Homo sapiens: one gene and its partners. The protein of the gene in region 1 interacts with the protein of each later gene in a pairwise test. Each region holds a gene or a part of one and is shown in the gene's direction. Other genes may lie near its edges.

The links.
Region 2: the proteins of TMEFF2 (region 1) and DRD2 interact in a two-hybrid assay, tested with the Homo sapiens proteins (one large-scale study listed by BioGRID and IntAct).
Region 3: the proteins of TMEFF2 (region 1) and ZDHHC15 interact in binary tests that used the Homo sapiens proteins (3 or more experiments, as listed by UniProt).
Region 4: the proteins of TMEFF2 (region 1) and NBPF19 interact in a two-hybrid assay, tested with the Homo sapiens proteins (one large-scale study listed by BioGRID).

What each region holds. Positions count from the first base shown.
Region 1 is NC_000002.12:191,998,518-192,004,546, reverse strand, and holds part of TMEFF2 (tomoregulin-2 isoform 1 precursor), read left to right. Parts: intron 1-5,338; coding exon 5,339-5,487; intron 5,488-6,029. UniProt on the Homo sapiens protein: May be a survival factor for hippocampal and mesencephalic neurons. The shedded form up-regulates cancer cell proliferation, probably by promoting ERK1/2 phosphorylation.
Region 2 is NC_000011.10:113,421,939-113,427,967, reverse strand, and holds part of DRD2 (D(2) dopamine receptor), read left to right. Parts: intron 1-3,285; 5' UTR 3,286-3,316; coding exon 3,317-3,601; coding exon of another isoform or gene 3,602-3,605; intron 3,606-6,029. UniProt on the Homo sapiens protein: Dopamine receptor whose activity is mediated by G proteins which inhibit adenylyl cyclase. Positively regulates postnatal regression of retinal hyaloid vessels via suppression of VEGFR2/KDR activity, downstream of OPN5.
Region 3 is NC_000023.11:75,427,634-75,433,662, reverse strand, and holds part of ZDHHC15 (palmitoyltransferase ZDHHC15), read left to right. Parts: intron 1-2,142; coding exon 2,143-2,212; intron 2,213-3,682; coding exon 3,683-3,715; intron 3,716-4,464; coding exon 4,465-4,585; intron 4,586-6,029. UniProt on the Homo sapiens protein: Palmitoyltransferase that catalyzes the addition of palmitate onto various protein substrates.
Region 4 is NC_000001.11:149,472,211-149,478,908, forward strand, and holds the start of NBPF19 (NBPF family member NBPF19), read left to right. Parts: upstream 1-2,834; 5' UTR 2,835-3,585; intron 3,586-3,687; 5' UTR 3,688-3,722; coding exon 3,723-3,897; intron 3,898-5,734; coding exon 5,735-5,837; intron 5,838-6,669; coding exon 6,670-6,698.

The sequences.
Region 1 (6,029 bases):
AGCCTCCTGAGTGGCTGGGACTACAGGCATACACCACTGAACCTGGCTCTTCTGTCACCTTTTTATCAGAGCCTTATGTTTTTCAGTGGTTTAATGTAGCAATAAACTGACAAGTTGCTATCATGTTCAAATTATATTGGTGCCTGAAACTGTACCCAAATACCACAAATGAGAAGTAGTAGCCTGCCTGGTGAAAACATTTTCTTGCCCCAGTTGGACTTTGATGCCATCAAGATTACTAACTGTTTGTTTCCTGTTTCCTTTGTCTGTGGAAACACAAATAAAAGGAGGACAGTGAGCCTTAGTTCTTCAGGAACCCCCTCTCCTTTGGAGACCCCACATCTGCCAAGTAGCACAAAGTTATCTCTCCTAGGTGTTAATATATAGCACAATGAATATTTTCAACTCTTTCAACACCATCTGCCATTCTCAGTAATTTATTCAACAACCATTTATTGAAGATGTTTGTAATGCACTGTACTAGGTACCAGGATGTCAAAGGTAAGTAAAACACCTTGCCCTTGAGAAGGTTGCAGAAAAGTAGAGGTATAAACAAGTAAACAGGTGCATTACCAATGCAGTAAATGCACCATGGAGGTGAGTGTGAGCCCCCCCCCCACACACACACACAAATTTTTTCACTCATATAAACACACAAAACCACCTCTACCCCATGAATGTAAACTTCCCCAAATTCCTCTTTGAAAGTTTTGAAGCAGACACCTGGAAAAAAATTAATGCTAAAACTCTCTAATTTTGTAATTTCAGTAGAGTTCATTGAGCTATACATTTGTGTGTTTGTGTGTATGTGTATTTGCGTGTAAATATTAGTTTTCATGTGGATCTTTATATAGCATTTTATTTAAGGATAAAATATTTTGAGCAACTGATGCTTTAGATAGTCAGGTTAATCTAATGCCCATAAAATTAGTTACTAATTCTAAAACCAGGTTTTAATTTGCAATGTCTTAAAACTAACATTCACTGATATATCCCAGTGATGCACAAAAAGTCTGGATTGCTTGTTTGAGAAGACAAGGACCAAGAGTCAATATGATTTAAATTCATAAAATCATGACATATTCCAAGAGTAGACATAGCCTTGGTTTTCAAATCCTATTTACTCAAAGGATTCCTTTAATCAGAGAGTGATAGGAATTTGGGTCTGTGATAGGAGTTTGGGTCTGTCTTTCTTTGTACTTTCAGTATGTAGAACAGGGCAGGCTCTGACATCAGACTGCCTAAATTTGAATTTAGGCTCTTCGATTTTCAAGCTGTGAGACTTCTCCAAGTCTCAATTTTCTTATCTGTAAGATGGGCATAGTAATAGTAACTTTTAGAATAGCAACCTTTCTTTAAGAATGTAAAATTGTTAGTGTATTCATTCATTTCATTTAGCTATCCAACATGTAGTTATTGAAAGTTTCATGTGTGCAAGATATTGGGCGGGTTGGGGATTGCAAAGATAATTCAATCACTGCAAATAGAGATCAAGATGGACTTAGAGTTTCAGACCATGGTCTTGGAATCCTGCATGTTTTTCTGACTGAATAAGCTTAATAGACATATATACATGGAATATAGTAAATAATGATTATGTAATCAGAGTTTATTGGTCTTTTGGAAACATAGAAATGGTAGGTCCTTGGTAATCCAGTCACAACATTTCCTTTTCCCCAAGCTTCATCGTTTTTGTGTTTTGTTTTGTTTTGTTTTTGAAACAGAGTCCCACTCTGTTGCCCAGGCTGGAGTGTAGTGGTGGGATCTCAGCTCACCGCAACCTCCGCCTCCCCCGTTCAAGTGATTCTCCTGCCTCAGCCTCCTGAGTAGCTGGGATTACAGGTGCCCAACAGCACATCTGACTACTTTTTGTATTTTTAGTAGAGTCAGCCTTTCACCGTGTCGGCCAGGCTGGTCTCCAACTGCTGAACTCAGGTGATCCGCCCACCTTGGCCTCCCAGGGTGCTGGGATTACAGGCATGAGACACCACGCCCGGCCAGCTTATTGTTTTCAAGCCATTTTAGCAAATCTTTGAAGTTTCTTCCACTTATTCACAAAAAAAAAAAAAATATTCTCCATAGATTTCCAATTTCCAGTGATTGCTGAGAGTCACAGGAAGTATTTTTAAAATGTACTCTTGCATTTATTTAATATATGCAAGTATATAGAGTAGGGAGCAAAGATGGAAGTTAATGATGAGGATATGCAATTGAGAAAAAGACCAATATAATCCATGCATTCCTGAAGCTTATATCCCAGGGAAACTTTCACCTCAAGGAATGAATCTATGTCCTCCTCTTGGGCTGAGAATAAAAACATCAACCATCTATACCTGTTTCTTAGCCATTCCATGAAAGGCTTTATTTGAGGCAACAAGAGCCAGGAATTTTGAGAGGAAACAAATCTTAAAAGGAGGCCTTGAGCAAGCGATGCTAGGAAAGGAAAGGGGGAAGGATGTCAGCAGCAGAAAAGCTGTGGGACCAAAATCAGATTAGTCAAACTGAAAAATAATAAATAAATAAATAAATAAATACACCAATTGGAGAATCTTGTAAAATATCCCACACAATTGTTCAATTTGGTGTTAAAGCTTAAGTGAATTTTTCAGTGAAACACTGATTCTAACCAGTCCAATTCAATCAAATTTTATCTTTCTGTCTGTATTAGTCTGTTTTCACCCTACTGATAAAGACATACCCAAGACTGGGCAATTTACAAAAGAAAGAGGTTTAATGGACTCACAGTTCCACGTGGGTAGGGAGGCCTCACAATCATGGCAGAAGGTGAAAGGTGTGGCAGCAGACAAGAGAAGAGAGCTTGTGCAGGGAAACTTCCCTTTATAAAACCATCAGATCTCATGAGACTTATTCACTATCATGAGAACAGCAAGGGAAATACCTGCCCCCATGATTCAATTATCTCCCACCAGGTCGCTCCCACAACACATAGGAATTATGGGAGCTACAATTCAAGATGAAATTTAGGTGGGGACACAGACAAACTATATCACCATCTCTATTCCCTTTGCACCATTTTGTCATGCTATCAAATGGGTTTCTGAACTGCCAATTACTTTCTGTCTATATATATATGTGACTTTTTCACTGAAACATTTAGAAATGTACACTGTATATATATATAATCTATTTACAAAACATTTACAAAAACATAAATATTAATAAAAATGTAAAATATATATATAGTGTACATTTCTAAATTTCTTTGGACTTAATTTGGATATACCGTCAAAGCCCTAATATCTTATCTAATTTACCATTTAGGTAGACAAGTGACAGAACATACCTTTCTGTTTTTCAGTTGCTAACAAACAACTTTATAGAAGACCTTGAAGGAGATAATTCCTAGAGTCTAACACAACAACAGTCAGAATCTAAACTGGTTTGAAGGCAAAAGAAACTACCTTTTTAAAAATGCAAATGTCAACCTCCTCACTCCTTTTTTATTTAATACAATGATTAAGGCTTGGCCTACAGAGTCACTTATCCACATCCGCTCTATAAGAACCAGAAGCTCTTTGAACATGTAGGCAGCTCCTGATCTCAGGTTTTCAGATGCCAAGAATCAGCTGAGGTAGCAATGTCATGTTCCAGTAGCTTGTGATCACATGGCAACATCAAAGCTAAGGTAGGAACACCGCTCCTCAATGAGTTAAGTGTTTAGAGATGGTTGCCATCTGTTGTAGCTATTTGTTCCTAAATAGGTAAATGTAAAAATAACCAGGCATTCCTACAGCAATTCTCTTACAAAATAAATAAATAAATAAGTAAGTTCATTAGCACATTTTCTGCCAGCATTTTTAAACAGCAATCTAGGTAATTCTGACACAGATGGTCTAAGGACTACACTCTGAGATGCACTGGTGTGTATACAAAGCCTCTCTCAATCAACAGACTGATCAAGCAGTGATTCCCAGGAATTGAGTCTGGTGCCAGGATGACTACTTAAGAATATAGAATGTTAGAAGCTACCCTAGATTTACTGGAGCCCAGAAATCTGCTTATGAATCTGTATACTTAAAAGTTCTCCAGGAGATTCTAATAACACAGTCTGTGGTATTAGAGAGAGGGGGTTGGGTTTTAGCTTAACAAATCTATGAGTGGGACCTTATTCCACAATTTACTAGTGTCTAACCTTATGTAATGTCTTTGGTCTGTAAAACAGCTGTTGTGAGGATTAAATAAAGCAATACATGTTGAGAGTCTAGCATGTAGTAACCTGCTTGCCATTGTATGCCTAGCTCTCAGTAAAATATACAGAAGTAAAAATGTATGCTTCATGACTTTGAGAAACATATAATCTATTTACAAAAACAACATAAATATTAATAAAAATTTAAAATATGAGTTTATATTCTAAAGCTGTAACATGGTTGTACACATACACCAGAAAACACACAAGACACAATATTCAGAATAATAAAATAGAGAAGTGTAAAGATATAGGAACAATCATATAAAATTTTCTTGAAAATGTTTAATTCTTCTTTAGGTAACCTAATTCTCATTAAATCACTGAATTTTTATTTAGATTATAGAAAAATATTAACATCATGAGTGGCAATCAACTTGTATTTATTATTTTATTATTTAAAATGAGAGGTAGAAAAATAGTAGTGTATATCTCGGAAGGGGTTTCATAGGATATGCTTAAAGGGGCCCAAGACAACCCTGAAATTTTATACAGAAGGGTTGTTTATATGAATATGGATATTTCTGGGGAGAGATCTATAGCTTTCATTTTTCCAAAGGGTTTTGTGGCCCCCCCAAAATGTTAAGGACCATTGAAGATTGGTCCTTTTAGTACATTTTATGTGCGTCCTTATTTATGCCAAAGAAATACGACTCCTGATTGCATGCCAAATAATTTACTTGTTTGCTTTCTCTGAACTGTCCTCTGAGTCAGTTTTCCACAAGCTTTAACCATTCAAATATCCCAAGAAAAGAAGGAAGAGTAAGATTCAATTTAAGAAAACTCTAAAGCAGAGTTTCATGACCTCAGCCTATTCATATTCTGCAGATATCAGCATGGAAATTTATGTACATGTTTTAAAAGTTCCAGGGCAGAAATTAACTGATGATCATTTTTGAGTTTTTCCTTTTATTTTTTATCCATTGCTCAGTTGTTTGAATTATTTTCCATTAGTTCTGTGTTTCTTTTCTTCTCAGTTAGAAAAGTGAAGGAACTTCCCTGGAAGGATACAATTCAATTTTGCCAACTTGCATTTTGTCAACTTAGCAATTCTTTCATTTGTGTTTTATTTATAATGTGGTAACAACACTATTGATGTTACATGTTTTTATTTCTCTCTTTTTTTAGGTGTGTGTGTAATATTGACTGTTCTCAAACCAACTTCAATCCCCTCTGCGCTTCTGATGGGAAATCTTATGATAATGCATGCCAAATCAAAGAAGCATCGTGTCAGAAACAGGAGAAAATTGAAGTCATGTCTTTGGGTCGATGTCAAGGTAATGTTCATACCAAAATTCATTTCAAAGAATGATTTTAGTCTTTGTGCAAAAATGAAAAGTGAAGAAAACTCCTTATTAGGCAGCTATTCCATTTCCAAAATGCAGTGCTTATTTACAATGGATAGTAGAGTCTACTGTAGCATTTGTGTCGATTATAGGATTTTGAGGGGCTCTCAGCAACCGTCCAGATCTGTCTCTATACAATGGAACTGTATTGTCACAATGCCATAAACACAGAAGCCAATATTCACAAGATAGCAGACAATTTTCTTGCAAAGGGAAAAAAGAAACTCAAAAACATTTTTAAAACGAATCTAAGAATTTATTAGACATCCTTGAAACTAAAAGCAAATCACTTCATTTTTATGTATTGATTCAGTACAAATATTTAAAATGCATTTTTAAAAGCAAGAGGTACTAGAATGTTCTATTTTCTTTCTTGTTCAGAAACAAGCATTTTCTTAGGTTTTGTTACTCCTTTGACCAATTTTTCTCAGTTATAATTGTGAATCTTCTTCTTCTCCCAAACTTTAGAAAGC
Region 2 (6,029 bases), on another chromosome or scaffold:
TCTGTGCGCGCATCCCTGATGTCTCTTTTTATGTCCAAAGCTCCTCTTATAAGGACTCCAGTCAGATTGGGTTAGGGCCCACCCTAAGCGTCTCATTTTAACATAATCAACTCTTTAAAGGCCCTGTATCCTAATACAGTCACATTCTGAGGTACTGGGGGTTAGGACTTCAACATATACATTTTGTGGGTTGGGGGAAGAGCATAGTGCAGACTGTAACAGGACCCAACATGCAGCACCTATGGCACCCTTGGGGTGCCTTACTTTTTCATCACTTGTTAATCTGGTAGCCTATGTTAGCAGGTGCCTTTCAAGTGGGAAGGGGTTTTCTTCCCAGTTGCACTAACAGAGCCTTTGATTCAGTTCAGCAAACATCTGTTGAATACGTACTGCCCACAAACCAGAGTCAAGAGTTGGGAAAGAACAAGATAGTATGGTTTTTATTTGTTCATTCCAAGAACAAGAGGAGGAATGAGCAAGACATGTTGTAACTCTTGTGATGTCTACACCCCAGTGAAAAAAAGAGACTCCTAAACAGGTGTCTCCTGCAGCACTGGGGTGTGTTTCAGTGCTGCAGGACCCTGAGGAGGGTGGGTGATGGCTCAGGCAGGAGGATATGGGTGGATTCTAAGACAGGAGGATTCTAGGCAAGACTCACTTTGAAGGATGCATAGGGACTGGAAAAGCAGAGGGAAGGGAAGTGAACAGAAGAGTTTTCCAAATCCCTTTCTTATTAAAGTAGGGATAATAATTAGACAAGATCAAGCATGTTCCAGGTAGTATGGCCATAGACAGGGATAATAATTAAAAGCCTCCGAGGGTTGTTTTGAGGATAAATGAGACAGTATATCCAAAAAACTTAGCAAACTATCAAACCCTTTACAAGTATATGATGCTATCATCAGCAGCAGGGAGTGGGGGGAGAAGAAGAGAGCGATGGTCAGGATGGGGGCAGTAAGTGTGCCTCACACGCCTCAGGCCCCTGACACTGCTTTGCACAGTGCTTTATGCCCAGCAGGTTCAATAAATGCCGATTGAGTAAATGAATGTCAGAAGCAGCCCCAGGCACCTGATCAATACATACATGCAGGCCTCCCGCTGTGGGCTCCAAATGGGAAGAGGGCTCAGTTGGTTTTGCAGAATACAGCATCAATATGACATATGCTTCATTACCTTAGAACAGGAAGATTTGCTGCGTGGTGGCATTCCATGTCACCCCACATGGAATTAGGCACTTTGCTTTTCCCCGAGGCTCCAGAGTGATGGTGGTTGGTAGGACATGATCCATATTCTTCTACTAAAGCTGGAAGAGTGGGTGTGTCAGACAGGGATGAGAGTGTGGAGATTGGGCAGACCCTCTTCCACCATCCTCTCTGACCCATTGCTGGAGGTGTGCCCTGTTCATTGATTGGACATGGCACCACATTCATCCCAAATGGCATCAATTGGTGGTTTTCAATTTGCAGTAGCAAAGTACCTGGAAGTCATGTGCTTTGTATGAAACACCTTGGAATGCTGATAAGTTTAATTCTATTCTGTAAAAGAGGAAGACTTTTGTTAGCTGAAAAGCCAACTATATTATCCATGCATTATGCTTCAGTCACAACCAAAACTCCGGCTGTCAAGTTCATCAACTCCTGATGCCTCCCAAGTCTGCTCCTGAGCCCCTCTGGTCCCTTTTCTCTGTGAATATGCGACACCAGCCTCCCAGAGCCCCACGCAGAAATCCTAGCATTACCCTCAACTCCTTATCTCCCTGCTTGTCCCATACCCACTTTTGCCCCACACCTATCCAAGGACCAAGGACCATGAAATTGACTTGCAGTTTAGCTCCTAATTCTGAACAGGTCTCTCCATCCTCGTTTCCACTATCTTCGTTCAGATGACCACAATTTCTAACCTAAATTACAGCCAAAACATCACTCTCCTCTGAGCTCTCTTCTACACCATACACTTTCTAGAACACCAGTCCAATAGGGTCATGTCTCTGGGCCCAACCTCTCAGGGACTCTCCAGCTGACAAGACACAATCTGGCCTGTAAATGTCCCTGCAGTTTAATTATCCTCAACGTTACTGCCATACCCTACATTTTTGGCCAAACAGAATTGTTTGCTGTTTGATGATTTGATACCATGTCATATTGTCTGTCTGGAACATCCCCCCACCCCTCTCATTTAGCAGGCTAAGTCCTCCTTCTACTTCATCCCAGATGATACCCACTTCAGGAAGTCTTTCCCTTCTGTGGGATGAGATGCCCATTCTGCAGGGCTTTCACTCCCTGCATCCTGCCAAACCTCATCATCTCTTACCTGGATTCCTGCTACAGCCTCCCAGTTGGTGTCCCGCTTCCACTCTGGGCCCCTCCTCTCCGTTCTCCACAGTGCTGTCAGAATCACCTATTCGAAAGGCGAATCTGATCATGTGGTTCCTGCTGCCCTTAGGATCATGTATAAACTCCTAGCATGACTTTTAAGGCCCTCTATGATCTTGCCTATTGCAACCTCCCCAGACTCAACCCTTGCCAGGTCCCTCTGCATCAGCTATCCAGAATCTCTTTGAGGCCCTCCACCTGCTGTCTACCTCTCTACCTCTGTGCTTTGCATATACTGCTTCCAATGTCTAGACCTTCTGCTGACTCCTAGTTCTTTACCTGGCTAATTCCTACACATCCTTCAGTTGTTTGTCTGTTGAACATCACTTCCTCTAGAAAGCCTTCCCTGAATACCTGAACTAGGTTATGTATCTCTCTCCCTGTTCCATTTCCTACTCCCTATCACCCTTAGATGTAATTGCTTGATTAATTGGCTGTTGTTTCTCCTAGAATGTGAGCTACAGAACCATGTATATTTTGTTCCTGCCTATATTTCTAGAACTATATAGAACAATGCTTAATAAATATTTATAGAATCAAGAATGAATGAATACCCATTTCTGTTTCGATGACTAGAAGGTAGCAAGCCTGGTTAACTGAAGTGTGTGGTGCATGGGTCGTGCTTAAGAAGTGTTTGTTGAATGAATAAATAAATGATGGATCAGCTCTGTTCAAGCTCATCTTATTATGCATTTTTAAAAAATTGTGTTTGCTCATTTGTCCTACCAGCTGTAAAAACTTGCTAGCAAAAGAGTGGCAGAAGGCCCAACATTTTTAGAAAATTCTTAGCCGTAAACCTTAAAATCCCGAGTTGGAAAATTCTCATTATTAAATGCCAGGAGTTGGTCTTCTTCCTGGAGACCTCTGCAAGAGGCCCTCTCACTGACACCTTGTGTCCATTTTTCCTGGCCAGAGCCTGGCCACCCAGTGGCTCCACCGCCCTGATGGATCCACTGAATCTGTCCTGGTATGATGATGATCTGGAGAGGCAGAACTGGAGCCGGCCCTTCAACGGGTCAGACGGGAAGGCGGACAGACCCCACTACAACTACTATGCCACACTGCTCACCCTGCTCATCGCTGTCATCGTCTTCGGCAACGTGCTGGTGTGCATGGCTGTGTCCCGCGAGAAGGCGCTGCAGACCACCACCAACTACCTGATCGTCAGCCTCGCAGTGGCCGACCTCCTCGTCGCCACACTGGTCATGCCCTGGGTTGTCTACCTGGAGGTAGGTGGGCCCCCTGCTTGCTCCAGCACTTTCTCCAGCAGGGCCCTGCACTGGACACTGGGGACTCTAGCTCCCCACTGGCTTTTACCAATGAGTTTCCTGGTGCTTCCCCAGGTGGTTTTTCCTTCACTCTGGGCTTACTTTTTCTCCTTACGAAATGGGTAGATTGTTTCCTTAATAATCCCAACTACCATTTGTAAAGTGCTTACTAAGTGCTGGGCCTCACGTAGGGACTTTAAATATAGCATTTTCCTATATAACCCTCACAGCAGCTTAGAGGCTGGCATTATTGCCACCATTTTGCAGTTGATAAACCAGGTGGTCAGAGATGTTAAGTAACTGCTGCAGCATCACACGGCTGGCAAGTCCAAGCTGGAATTCTGGCCTCAGAGTTAGTTCCTTAGGTCATATTGGAAATAGGAGTAACCGGCAAGGATCCCCAAGGAGGGGCATGTTTATGCTCCCAGGCCCCTGAAACCTTCACTCCCATCTCCCCACTTCAGAAATGGGTCTGCTGCTTTATGCTCCCCATATCCCCTCTCCTTCCCACAGCTTATCCTGGGGCCCTGTCCAGGACCTGCAGGTAGAGGCTGCCATGGACTGTGCTGTAGCCCTTTTGTTAGGAAGAATTGTGTAGTCACTCATTTCTTGGCCCAGCTCTGCACCTCAAAATGGGGAGTAGGCAGCACAGTCTAGACACTGTGCCTGGTGCATTGCTGACACAGACCCAGTGAATACTCTTGGTAACCCTGGGAGTCCATGCTACTCTTCTCACTTTACAAAATAGGAAACAGGCCGAGCACGGTGGCTCACGCCTGTAATCCTAGCACTTTGGGAGGCCGAGGCAGGCAGATCACGAGGCCAGGAGTTCAAGACCAGCCTGGCCAACATGGTGAAACCCCATCTCTACTAAAAATGCAACAATTAGCCAGGTGTGGTGGCATATGCCTGTAATCCCAGATACTTGGGAGGCTGAGGCAGGAGAATTGCTTGAATCTGGGAGGCAGAGGTTGCAGTGAGCTGAGATCATACCATTGCACTCCAGCCTGGGCGACAGAGCAAGACTCTGTCTCAAAAAAAAAATAAAATTAAATTAAAACAAAAACAAAATAGGAAATAGAAGCTTTGGAGAAGTTGCCTTTCTTCACCCAGGTCACAGGGAGAAATGCTGATGGAGAAATCCCAAAGCAGATATTATTCTCCAGGAAGACACCTTCAGAGCCAGCGAGCAGATGTGGGAGCATTTAGGGATCATCGGTGGGCACAAGCTGGATCCTGCCCCTTTCTCTGCCCAGCTTTCTAGGATGGCATGTCCAGGACTCAAGCAATCTGGGAGTCTAGGTGCATGGGAAGGCATGGGATCAGGCATTTAGGAAAGTGCCGGTGCTCTGCCCACTGAACCGTTACCTTCCTTCCCTGAGCAGGAGAGGAATTGACCAGTGCCTCTGAGGCCATCCCTGCCTGAGAGGGAAGGGGTTGTTGAAAGAAAATGAGAAAGCTTTGTAGGTTTAAACAGGGGAGAAATCTAGATGAGGACGCTCAGGTGAGGAGGCGAGACTGGTGGAAAGTGGCACACCTCCCTGTCCCTGGGCCCCCAAGGGGCTCGTGCGCTTACTGTTCTCACCACCACCCCGGGCCCAAGGGAGCTCTGATCCATCACCCCTTGGCTTCCTTTACTACAGCCAATGCAGGCTGCAACTTCCAAAATGACCTGACTGGATATTAAGGAAGAACCAAAAGGAAACACAAATACAAAACCACATAAAAATATTCAGTTGACACAGGCCAGGAGTCCAATTCCCCCTGGATCCATGTTTATGAGGGCCCCTAGACTCTGTCCATGCCTTCTTAATTCTTACGCTTGATCCCCTCCTTCTTCCCTCTTCCAAAGGAGGGTCCTAGGTCTCAGACCATAGGGAAAAATGGTAGAGCAAACAAACTCTCTGTGCCTCAGTTTCCTCATCTGGAAAATGCAGATAATAATAGTATCATACATCATAGCATTGTTGAGGATCGAATTAGTTGATGTATGAAAAGTGATTAGAATGATACATGGCTCACAGTGAGCACTGTGTAAATGTCAGCCATGGCGATGATGATAAAGATGAAGATGACAATAGACATCCAGCACTGCTCCACATAGGGAGGACTCTGTCTTTCCTATTCACCGCCCCCTTGGGATAAAGAGGAAGGAGAGAGTACTCCCTATGTTCGCCCCAGGCAAGTAGGTACCCTCTTCCCAGAGGAACGTGTGTTCTACCCAGGGCTCTGGGCATGGCTTCTGTTAGCTTCCAGACCCCCTGTCCCTACCCAGGCACTTGGGTAGGGACAAATCCATACATGGGCTATAGGGGGTTCCCAGGAATCTGTAAGTCTTTCGAACAGATCCTTTAAACATGCTTGTTCACCTTATTTTAAAGGTGAAGCT
Region 3 (6,029 bases), on another chromosome or scaffold:
ACACACTACTCAGCCATAAAAAATATACACTACTTGGCCATAAAAAGGGAACAAAATCATGGCATTCTCAGCAACCTGGATGGAGTTGGAGACCATTATTCTATGTAAAGTAACTCAGGAGTGGAAAACCTAATATCATATGTTTTCAATTATGAGTGAGAGCTAAGCTATGAGGATGCAAAAGCCTAAGAATGATATAGTGTACTCTGGGGACTCAGGGGGAAGGGTAGGGGGTGGCAAGGGTTAACAGACTACATGCTGGGTACAGTGTTTACGGCTTAGATGGTGGGTGCACCAAAATCTCAGAAATCACCACTAAACAACTTATCCATGTAACCAAACACCACCTGTTCCCCAAAAACCTATTGAAATAAAAAAAGTAAAATTAACCATCATACCAAAAGGAGCAGAGGGATGATCATCCCAGGCAAAAGGAACTGCAAGCACAAAAAGCCTTGAAACAGGAGCAAGCTTGATTACAAGAGCAGATAGGCAGCCAGTTTCACTGGAACATAGTATGAGGAGAGTTTTACAAGATTCATTTGAAGAGATAGGCAGAGGCTAGATGATACAGGCCATGGTAAGGAGTTTGGATTTTATTCTGAAGGTGTTGGAAATCCATTGAGAGTTTTAAGTGGAGAGTGATATGATCTGATTTACATTTTTTTTTTTATTTTTAGAAACAGGATCTTGCTCTATCGCCCAGGCTGGAGTACAGTGGTTCATTCATGGATCACAGCAGCCTCGAACTCCTGGGCTCTAGCAATCCTCCCGCCTCGGCCTCCCAAGTAGCTGAGGCCACAAGTGCACACCACCATGCCTGGCTAATTTATTTTATTTTATTTTTTTATAGAGACAGGGTCTCACTATGTTGTCCAGGCTGGTCTGGAACTCTTGGTCTCAAGCGATAGTTGTGCCTCAGTCTCTCAAAGTGCTGGGATTATAGACATGAGCCACTACACCAGATCTGATGTAGATTTTGACAGATCACCCAGCTACTCTGTATAGTAGGTCTTTTGAGGGGCAAGTATGAAAGCAGAGTGATAAATTACACAGATATTGCAGTCAACTAGCTAAGAGACAATGTGGCTTAAATGAGGATAGGAGCATTGACAGTATATTTTAAAATATGCAAAAGGACCCAGATATGCATGTTCTTCTCCCTTCCTCTTTGACTCAATTATACCCACGACTTTAGTCACTCACATACTTCCATTAGTGGAAGTAAACACAAATCTCTGCTGAATTAACTGTCTATTGTGTTGAATCAGTAATATGTGCTTAATGTACACTTTAGATGAAATGATTATATTAGTTCAAATTATTCATCATTTTAGTTTTTATACTTAATAATCACATTAAACACAGTCGTACTCTATCAATGAACATCTAGAAAATGAGAGGGAAAGTAAAATACCTTTCATCTAAAGGAAAGGAAGGAAGGAAGAAAGGAAGGAATGAAGGAGGGAGGGAAGGAGGAATGATTTTTTTATATTAGAATCCTAAAATAAGAATTACAGAGTTAAAAGAATCCTAAAATAAGAAATCATCAAAACTGTACAGGTCACAGCCCTGCCAGCAACTTGCTGTGTGACCCTGGGCAAATCACTTGATATGACCCAGATCTTTATTTCCTTTATCTGTGAAATGGTCAATTAAACTAATTGTTCTAGAATGTCTCTTCTGTTCCCCAAATTATTATTCTAGAAACCACTCTCTTTACCATGTTTTAGGAGTGTTATCCACCACATACAATCCAACCTCTGGAGACAGGAGATAAACTGTGAATCCTTATTTTCAGATCAGAAAGTTGGGGGTAAATAGAGGCTAAATGGTTTTTCAAGATCCCTCAAGCATTTGATAGTATAGTTTGTTTTATAATGAAAGATCTTATGACAGATATCCAGATAAGAAACTTTTCTCGTTCCTTTCAGCCCCCAAAAGTGCTTTCAAAATTGGATACAACAAGGAAAAAAATATATACCCCAATTCTCTTATGTAGTCTGCCTTTTGCTTGGTAACTTGAGATGAGTTTGACTATCTATAATCAGTGCATAACAAGTCATCCAGATAAGCTAGTAAGATATAAGGTCTTATATTGAGCCCTAACAAGTGCTAACCACCTTATTTTTTTTTTTATAGCTGTACGATTCTGTGACCGGTGTCATCTGATCAAGCCAGACCGCTGCCACCACTGCTCTGTCTGTGCTATGTAAGTGACGGCCATATTTCCCCTGGGCTGGGCTTGGCCACTGAAGGTTTCCTAGACAACAAAATGACTGATCCTAACATGTAATCATACCTAGATAAGAGCATTTCCTTTCAATTATAATGAGCATATGCCAAAACCCCTCACACGGATGATGATGATCCAAGCTACTCTAAAGATAAGTAAGAGAAGTAAGACCACATTTTAAAAACTAACATTGTATTTGTGGACAGTTTTAGACTTACAGATTTATTGTGAAGATAGTTCTTGTATGTCTCACACCCAGTTTCCCTTGTTGTTAACATCTTATATTTGTATGATACATTTGTTACAATTAATGAACTAATACTGATACATTATTTTTAACTGAAGTCTATATTTAGATTTCCTCAGTTTTTCCATAATGTCCTTTATCTGTTCCAGGATCCCATCCAGGATACCACATTACATTTAATAGTGATGTCTCATCTCCTTAGCTTCTCTTAGCTGTGGCAGTATCCCAGACTTGTTTTTGATAACCTTGACAGTATTTAGGATTAATGGTCAAGTAGGTCATAGAGTGTCCCTTGATTGAGATTTGTTTGATGCTTTCCTCATCATTGTTAGACTGGGGTAATATGATCTGGGGGAGGAAGACGACAGAGTAAGGTGCCATTCTCATTACATCATATTAAGGGTACCTATAAACATGACTTATCACTGAAAGGTTAATTTTGATCATCTGGCTGAGGTAGTATGTCAGGTTTCACCACTGTAAAATTGTTCTTCCTTTCTATGCTTTACTCTTTGAAAGGAAGTCACTATGCACAGCCAACACTAAAGGAATGGAAAGTTATGCCCTCCATCCTTGAAGGTGGAGTATCTACACAAATTATTTCAAGTTATTTTGCTTGGGACATTTATCTCTTCTCTTCATTTATTTATTTATTCAATCATTTATTTATATCAGTATGAAAGCATAAATATTCATTTTACATTTTGCATTATAACCCAATACTACTTTTTTGTTGCCCAAATTGTTCCAGCTTTGCAAACCCCATTTTTATATTGATACATGTAATGCCTTTTCTCTTGAGTACTTATTCCACCCATATTTTTCTTACCCTTGATTCAGATAGAGGCTATAGCCATATATTTTCTTCTGTATTTTTATTAAACTAAGTATTGAATAAAATGATAGGAGACATCTTGAACCTTTTCTCTGTATTAATAATCTGGAGTTTCCAATCCCTTTGAAAGGTTGGACTTATAAGCATGTAACTTGCTGCTGGCATGATCCTATAAAGTGTTGTTGTGATTACCTCATCCTAGAAATAACTGAGGGCCACAGTTTTGGAGTCACTATAGTGGAAATCTGAGAATGGGTGTTATTAGAACCATGTAAAAATACTGGTGAAACCTTGAGTTTAATTATGAGATGTTGCTTCATTTCCATAGCCTCACTTATCACACTGTATTTTGTCCCCTTCGTAGGTGTGTGTTAAAAATGGATCATCACTGCCCTTGGTATGTCTGTTTGATTCATTTCTCTCCTCTAAAGGGGTCAAAGTTGCTCAATTATATGCACTTTTCTAAGCATAGTTGTCACATGCCTGTTTCTGCCACCATAATTCACTGGGTTTTATATTTCTGTAGGGGACAGGGGAGGGGTAACATTTTAAATAAAGAAAAAATATAACACCAAAGGTATGGTAGTGAATTCCTGGAGTTACAAAGCTAATGGTCTCATATTCATTAACTTTAGCAATTGAGCATAGTAATGAAATACAGCACAAACATTTCTCCTTTTAACATTACACAATTCAGTTCTGTTTCTAGTTGGCTTGATGTTTGAAATATTCTAGAATGTTAAATTCAGCAATTTTCCAAATTTTGTATATCAGACCCTGCGGGCCAGTCTGAAATCACCTAACTACAAAAAGAACATGCCACAACTGTACCAAATGTAGCTGCTAAAACTGTAATACATTTTTAGCAACCAGGATCCAGGTTTGCTTGGATGTGTCACGAACCAGTCCAGAGCTATTAGGCAGGCCAGGTGTTTCTGTGCCTGTAAATGAAAGAATAAACAAGTGAGACATGAACTTGTTTTATCCAGTTTGTTCTTATTAAGGGACTTCTATCTCTATTGGGCTTTTACACGACACATAATGAAGCAGCAGAACTAGCATTATTCCATTGCTTAGTTCACTTATGTATCAGTGTGCTCTCAATCAAGAGGTCCTGATGTCAAATTAGTTTTTCTTTTTTTTTAGGGTTAATAACTGCATTGGATTTTCCAACTACAAATTCTTCCTTCAATTCTTAGCTTACTCTGTTCTCTACTGCCTGTACATTGCTACGACAGTCTTCAGCTATTTCATCAAATACTGGAGAGTAAGTTAAAAATATCCTGAAGGGTCCCCTAGAACAAATGCACACCCACTCCAACTTGTGACATTGTTCACCCTCTATCTTTTTACATTTTTAAATAGCTAATACTGTTGAAGTAACTGGAAGAGAAGGCACTAAAAACAGGTTTTCCATATTGAATACTCTGAGATTTCGGAAGCTGTTATTTAAAGATTCTAGTTAAACAAGTTTCTGTCATACACGAGAATCTTGCTAAGGCCTTTGGGTACCTAATCTCTTGACTCCTATTGATTCTTTACAATGTATTTCTCCAGGTGAGTTTTAAAGTTCCACTTCCTACCAGTTATAGATTTGAAAAATGTTGAAACTAATTTTAAATCCCTAGTTTCCTAAGAAAAAGGCTAACAAATCACTCCCCTGTTGTTAGAAAATACTTCCTAATTCCCTATTCAAAGGAGAGTTGCAGAATTCCTATGAGACAGAAAGATATACTGACCTATCTCACATAATGGGGAGGGGTTTTTTTGTTTGTTTTTTAACTTTGTTTGACAAACACTGGGTTAGCAATTAGGAGAACTGGGATCTAATACTGGATCTCTTACCTGCTTCACTGGCTCATTGCCAAGATCAAATGAAACAGACGTTGAAAGTGCTTTACCTTTAAAAATGTGAGTCTAATAATTATAATGAAATCTCAAAAAAAGTTATTTCATCTACTTGAAGATATAAATCATATCCAACTACTTCCAAAAAAGAAAAACAAACTTAAGGCAGATTTTTTTATTTACATATGTGTACAAGGTCTGGCAAAAGTATAGTGAAATATGTTCTTTTTAAATGTCATACTAGTGGACTCCAGGAGATATCCCTTCCCCACAACTCCAGTACAATTACTAAGACATCCATGATGAAGGCTGTCCAAACTGAACCTGAATATCAAAAGACAGATGTGGACAGAGCTACTAGTTATTTAGGGATTGCACAAAAGCCTATATAACATGAATATCTCACCTCAAATGGAGACATAAAGCCGTAGAGAAAGAACATGAATTCAGTGACCAGAATATAGACTATAATAAACTGAAGAAAAAAGGAGAAGGGTAAGGCAATAGGAACCTAAATAGCCAAGAATATTTAAATTATTAATCAGTGCATTGATCCCTAGTAATATAGAAAAGATAGTGTAGAAAATTATAGTGATGTGTGTTTTCCATTTCCCTTTCAACTTGCTTAATCAGTTCAGATATTTAATAACTTTAAGAATAAGGAATTATATAATAGATGCCATAATCATTAACTCAGGGATACAAGCAAAACTTTATGCAGAAGTAAAACTTTTTCATAAATTTTTCTACAAATATAAAATGCTTCATCATCTCTTCCTTTGTCCCTTTCCACAGCACAGGATTATTATTAAGTTACAATAATTTTAAAATATATTATAAAATCCACATACTGAGCTACTACC
Region 4 (6,698 bases), on another chromosome or scaffold:
GTAAGAGGCCAGAATATGATGCTGGCAGCATGTTGTGAGGAAATGTATTAGATGAAAGAAGTTAAATTCCAGTTCTCCTTTTTTCAGAAATGAGGTATAGGGGAGAGAAACACGTACTTGGAAAGAATTGACCCAGCTGAATTGGAAAATGTGGGAAGGGGATGGGGAAGAGGCTGCTCCACCTGAGATCTGGCTCCAGGACTTACAGCAAGGGGAACTTGGGCAAGTTACAGACTGTCTATGCCTCAGTTTCTTTATCAGCAAAACAGAATCATCCCATAAACTATAAGGTCGATGGTATCAGCGGGTCCCCAAACTGACTGCACATCTGAGTCATGTTAACAAACACATTCCAGGCCCCACCTGAGCCCTCTGAATCAGAATCCCTGTAAGGAGGACGATGAACTTGAATTTGCACTGACTTTCCCAGCTGTTTCTTACTCTGATCAACTTGGGGGTAGGACCCATTGAGCTGCATCACATCATTCCAAAGCCAAAACACAACAGCAGGACAAGAATATTTTCAAGGCAGTCTCTAAAGCAGAGGAGAAACTGTTGAGGGAACCTAGAAGTAAAGGAGATCTGGCTTGCTGGGCTCCATTTGAACTTTGAGTACAACAGAGACATGAGCCCTTTGGGACACATGCCTGAGGTAGTGACAGTCCAGCTTTGGAAGAGTGGAAGCCCTAGTTCCAAATTCAAGCATGCTTTGAGTATAAATTAAGTTTACCTCTTTTTGCACAGCAACATGGCCAATCTTTCCTAAGCTGCTCAGCTTACAAGAAAAGGAATCATACTGCTAAGAATTCAAACTTCAGCAGTCATAGGTAAGTAAGGAAGTCTTATAAACCTATTCTAGCCACCTAACCAGAAACTCGAAATTTAGCAGGTTCTTTCAGTTTCAGGACAGTTGTGTTCACTAGATCAGAGGCATTGAGACATGAAGAACAGACCCTTAAAAAGGGAAAGTGTTCCCTTCAGTTTGAGGACATCACTGGAACATTAGGGAAGTGGGAACACAGCTGCTCACTCTACAGTGTGGGTTGCCTTTGTGTCTGGAATGTGTCTGACGTCCTGATCCCTGTGCACATTTCAGGGAGCCTTGGGAGGACCCCGAATCACTGATGGAATTGGGCAGTGCATGGAGATGGCTCAGCAGGATGAGGGTAAATGCAGGGGCAAGTCCAGGTCATACTGAGAGACAATGAGTGGCGCTGATGAGGACAAAGATAAAATCAAAAGTTTGTGCTTCATCTTCAAAAACTCAAGCTGATAACAAACTTGGCCTGATGAGAAATAATAAGTATTTTTCTATTTACATGAGAATTTAATCTCAAAACAGAAATCAGAAAAATATGAAGTCCAGGGCATAAAACCTAAAACTATTGCTCATATTTATTCTTTCTAAATAGAGCAAAGTGTACAATCTTCTCCATAAGACATACATTGTGGTTATAAAAAGGCAAAAGTCTTAGTGAGAATCATTGGTATTCCATAGAAGAGTGAATTAAACACAGCCAAGGGAAGACCCACGTCTCATACTTCTCTTGTATATTCCAAAGTTCCAGGGAAATTCCAGGTGATAGAGGTTATTTCCCATACTGTTAAAGCAAGGTTTCAGACACTTCTGAATTTTGGTCCCAGTACTCTAGAAGGGCACACCTCTGTCCTGGAAAATAATACAGGAATGAATACTCTTCCCGTGACCCATTCTGGTCATTCTTCCAGCATCACAAAAACCAAAAAATGGAAATATGGCCAAATACGTGATTAGCTGTCCCTCATCTTCAGGTTTCTTATCTGTTACTTATAGATAATAGCATTACCTTAAGGATTATGATGAAGATACAATGTCCAAATATAAACACAGTTTTGAGCAAAATGCCTTGTACGAATTGGTCAATGAATAATTACTAAATATGTGAATATTTACTGGATTGTATGGATCCTATGAATAATTACTGAATAATTATTGTGATTGCTTTTATTGGCAGTGCTGAAAACTCATCCCTTTGTGACCTCAAGTAACCCATGACACTTTGTGAACCTGCAGTTTTTTCATTTAGAAACTTGACAGATTTTCATTCTGACACAGAATGTCAGGTCTCCCAGACCCTAGAAAATACATTGACTTAAAGCCTTTGATACATCTCAAAGCAGTATCCTTACAGTGTCACTGGAAGATGGTGCGGGCTGCAGAGAGGGATGCTTTCAAATGGGATTAACCAGTCCTCCTTCCTTCACTTCCACATGAATGCTGGGCAGCCCAGGGTCAACCCACTGCACCCTCAACTCAGGCAAGTCCAGCAGCCAATCTTAGGAGACCTGGGCTACAGAACAGTCTCTCAAGTTCCAGGCTCACAAAACCTAGGTGGGGATGAAAGCTGAGAAAGCGAAGAGGTGGTTCAGGGGATCACTCTTTCCTACTTGTTCCTCTCACCTCAAACTCACCTTCTACTGCACAGCAACACTGAGGATCGCCAACCAACCCTGACCATAACCTTGATCTTGCCATGTTCTGTTAGTGGAATGCAACCCAAAATCAATGGTGTTAGGTCATCTCAACAAAATATATATCAAACCATATTCCATAAGAACTGCTCGTGGCCCTGTTCTTTTCAGTATATGGGAAAACAAAATGGAAACAACAAAATAGCATCAGGTTTACAAAACTTCCCAAGATAGATGGTCACACATGTTTTCAGGAGACCTCTATATAAATGACTTTGATCACTTGATACCTTGAAAAGAGGTCTTGTGGCACTAGAATGACATCTATAAGTGACAAGTATAAAATGTAGTGCTCAGTGACATTAAAAAACAAATCAACCCACATAGAGGAAGAGCTTTGGACGTAGGGATGTCAAACTGGTCTAGAATGTAATGAAAACCCAAGAAGGTGCCCCAGTAAGAAAGAGGAAATCAATCTAACAATGGGATGCAGCAGCAAGAATACTGAGACAGGAAAGAAAATATTTTAAAAAAATGAATTATTCATTCACTTTCTAGTGGATACAGAAAAAACTGCAGAAGACCCAGAGGATATCAGGGCAGGCTAAAAGTTTGATATCTTACACCTGTGGAAAAGCCTTAAGCTCTGTTTTAACTGAGAGCAGGTGGGGTGACTTCATGACTACCATTAAGAAAATATAACCTGTTGGGAAACTGTTTCTGCCTTGATGATGTTGTACAGACAAGAGATAAACAGTGAGGAATATGCTTAGATGTATTGGGAAAGACATGGGTCTGTGGCATTGTCACAAGGGTACACGAATACTGAGAGTGAATGCTGAAGGAATGATCCCCATTGGTGGTGACCCTCAGGTGAAAGTAGGGTGCCTGTGTTTCAGCAAAGCCTGGGCAATTGGAATGCAGAGCTCCTAAGATTCCATGACACCCCCACCTTCTAATTCTGTTATTGCAACTGCAGACGGTTACCTGGCACGCTGGCCACATTCTGCCTCACTCTTATCAGAGTCTGAGCTACTGGCAGTGCTTTCAGCTCTGAGTTGAGGCACCTCGAACCTTGTTTTTGTGGTGAAGGATCCTAAAGTGCTGTGGGGAGTGATCACATTTTTCACAACAGTAAGTTAAGAATTTCAGTTACTGACATCCCTCAGTCCTGATTAAACCGATTTGATTTCACCAGTTTTTAACCCATCATATGTTTGGGTTTCTTCTCCCCAGTCCCTGACTCCACCTCTTCTGCCACAAACGTCAGCATGGTGGTATCAGCCGGCCCTTGGTCCAGTGAGAAGGCAGAGATGAACATTCTAGAAATCAACGAGACATTGCGCCCCCAGCTGGCAGAGAAGAAACAGCAGTTCAGAAACCTCAAAGAGAAATGTTTTCTAACTCAACTGGCCGGCTTCCTGGCCAACCGACAGAAGAAATACAGTAAGATCTATAGGCTCACCATCATGAAAGTGATGAATGATATCCTGTCTTCTCTCTGAGACACTAAATGCTCTCTCCATCAAAAATAATTTCATCCTTCCTGTACTTCTAGGAAAACAGAAATGGGTATTTTAACATTTTGTTAAAGTTGGAAGACAGAGGTGCCAAAGTATTTAGCAACTTTCCATGTTTGCAATCAGATGGGGGTGGAACTAGAGTTAAACTCACAGTTATTGATTTCTAACACAGGCACAGAATGACCTGTTTTCTCCAAGGGGCTCAATCATGTTTTTAAGAATCCTCTCTGTACCATATAAGATCCTGCAGACAAATAACATCTAGTCTGTTGTTCTAAATGTCTAGGACTAGTGAACTTTTATTCAGTTCAAGTTTCTGTTGAGGCCCAACAGGCAAAGCTCTGTTCTAGTGACTCTGAGGGGAACTTGGTGATAGTAGCCAGTACCTGCTCTGAGGGGCTTCAAGGGGAGTCTGCTCCTAATAGAACCTGTGCTATCTATAAGTGACAGCATCAAGAGCAGGGAGTAGGGGCCGTGCAACGTGGCTCACTCCTATAATCTCAGCACTTTGGGAGGCTGAGGCGGGCAGAGCACGAGGTCAGCAGTTTGAGACTAGCCTGGGCAACATGGAGAAACCCCATCTCCACTAAAAATACAAAAAGTAGATGGGCATCGTGGCGGGCAACTGTAATCACCACTAATCGGGAGGCTGAGGCAGAAGAATCCTTTGAACCCAGCAGGCAGATGTTGCAGTGAGCCAAGATTGCACTATTGCACTCCAGCATGGGTGACGGGGCAAGACTCGTCAAAAAACAAACAAACAAAAAGATAAATAAATCAAAAATAAAAATAAAAAGCAGAGAGTACCTTGGTGAGAGTGAAGTCCTGCTTCCTGGTGCACAGGCTCTTGTTCCTAAAGAGGAAAGATCACACCGGAGAATGTGTGGAAGCAGCAGTGCAGTGTGCAAAGCAGGGACCCTCAGCCTGTCTCCTGGGCTCCATCCAAGTTGCTTGTCTTGTCTGTCCCTCAGTTTCCTCATCTGTTCAGAGGGTACTACAATAATACCTACCTCTGTAAATTGCTGCAATGAATTACATGAGGTATTTCCTGTCAATCTCCTTGAACATTAATTGGCACAGTGGAAACACTATCTATTAGTTCTTCATTCTGATGTTTCTAAATTAACACAAACTAATGCTGTTTCTAAATTAACACAACTAATCTAAATCTTAATGCTGCCTCTCATACTAATAAAGTATTTGGGCATATTTCCTTCATGGCCTTATTGTCTTATATCTCACACTTTATGCTTCAGATATGATTCTTAAAACCATATCTGAATATTGATTTAAAAATGAAATATTTTTAAAGTCCTTGACATATTTGTCCTTGAAATACCCAGTAAAAGGGAAACCATCAGTCCCATAGTCCTAGGGGCCTTCCCGACTGTACAAGAAATCACTACTTCATGCCCCAGTGCAGTGTTTTAGAGGAGAGGCTGCAAGACTTGGGAAAGTGGCCCCGCATTCAGAGTCAGACCTCAGGGGCTGTGAGTTCTGACTCCACTTCGTTGTGGTTGAATCATCTTGTCAACTTCCTTGATGCGCCCTTGAGTTTCTCTTTCTTCGTCTTTAAATTTTGGAGGATCAGATGCCAGAAAGTCAGGAGACTGAAGAATAAAGATGTGGAAATCCCTGTCTAGACCCTGGTACTGGGGAGAGTTTTGTCCTTGGGATGGACCTGGCTCCTGCCCTGTAGGCAGTGACCACAGCAGCATGTCCAGCCTTCCACTGAGGCAGGCGTGTCTGTCTTTTCTCAGAGTATGAAGAGTGTAAAGACCTCATAAAATTTATGCTGAGGAATGAGCGACAGTTCAAGGAGGAGAAGCTTGCAGAGCAGCTGAAGCAAGCTGAGGAGCTCAGGTGAGGGGACCCCGTGGGGGGAGGGCAGGCGGGTAGGTGTGTAGATCTCTGAAGTACAGCAGCTCGGCGGGGAGAAATAAGAACGAAGCTGGGCCAGGGGAAGGGCAGAAATTGCCATGACAGGCTCATGACACACAAATATTTATCAGTGAACAAGGATAATAATAAGTTCTGTGTTGCAGTTGTTTCTTAGAGCCTTGTTTTCTCTTTTTCAAACAAGTAATTGTTGAGGTGAAATTTACATAACACAAAATTCACCAAAGGAGTGGGAACCACCCAGCAGCATTCAGTATAATCAAAATGGTGTGCTATCACCACCCCACTTACCCTTAGTGAGAATCACCTCCTGACTGACTGCGTCTTCTCATTCTTTCACTCAATCAATGTTGCCTTCTTGACCCTGTCCTTCTTTTCTTCTTTCATCTTTTCAATTCGCCCCATCTGCACCTGGCCTCATTTCTGTACATGGCTTTGTATTTAGTGGCCGCAAGATGCACTATGTGTATTTTCACATGGAAATGTCCATGGCCAGAGTGAGGAACTGAAAGGATGTCTTTTTGAAACGGAATTAGGAAGACACCTACTTTTGTTTACAGAAGAGAAAGATGAATGGAACATCATCGAGGATCTTGCAGGAGCCCTCTCTGATAGAGGGAAAGCCTGTAGACCATTTTCTATTCTTCCTCTTGGCCACAGTCATTCCTTTCAACATGTGCTGACCTTCTGCTTGGAGGTCTCCTTGAGGACATTGTCTCAGAAGTCTCTGTTGCAATATTTGAACGGATCACTCAACCCTTTCTACTCTTAAATTTTCTCTACCGTCTCACCTTAGGCAATATAAAGTCCTGTTTCACTCTCAGG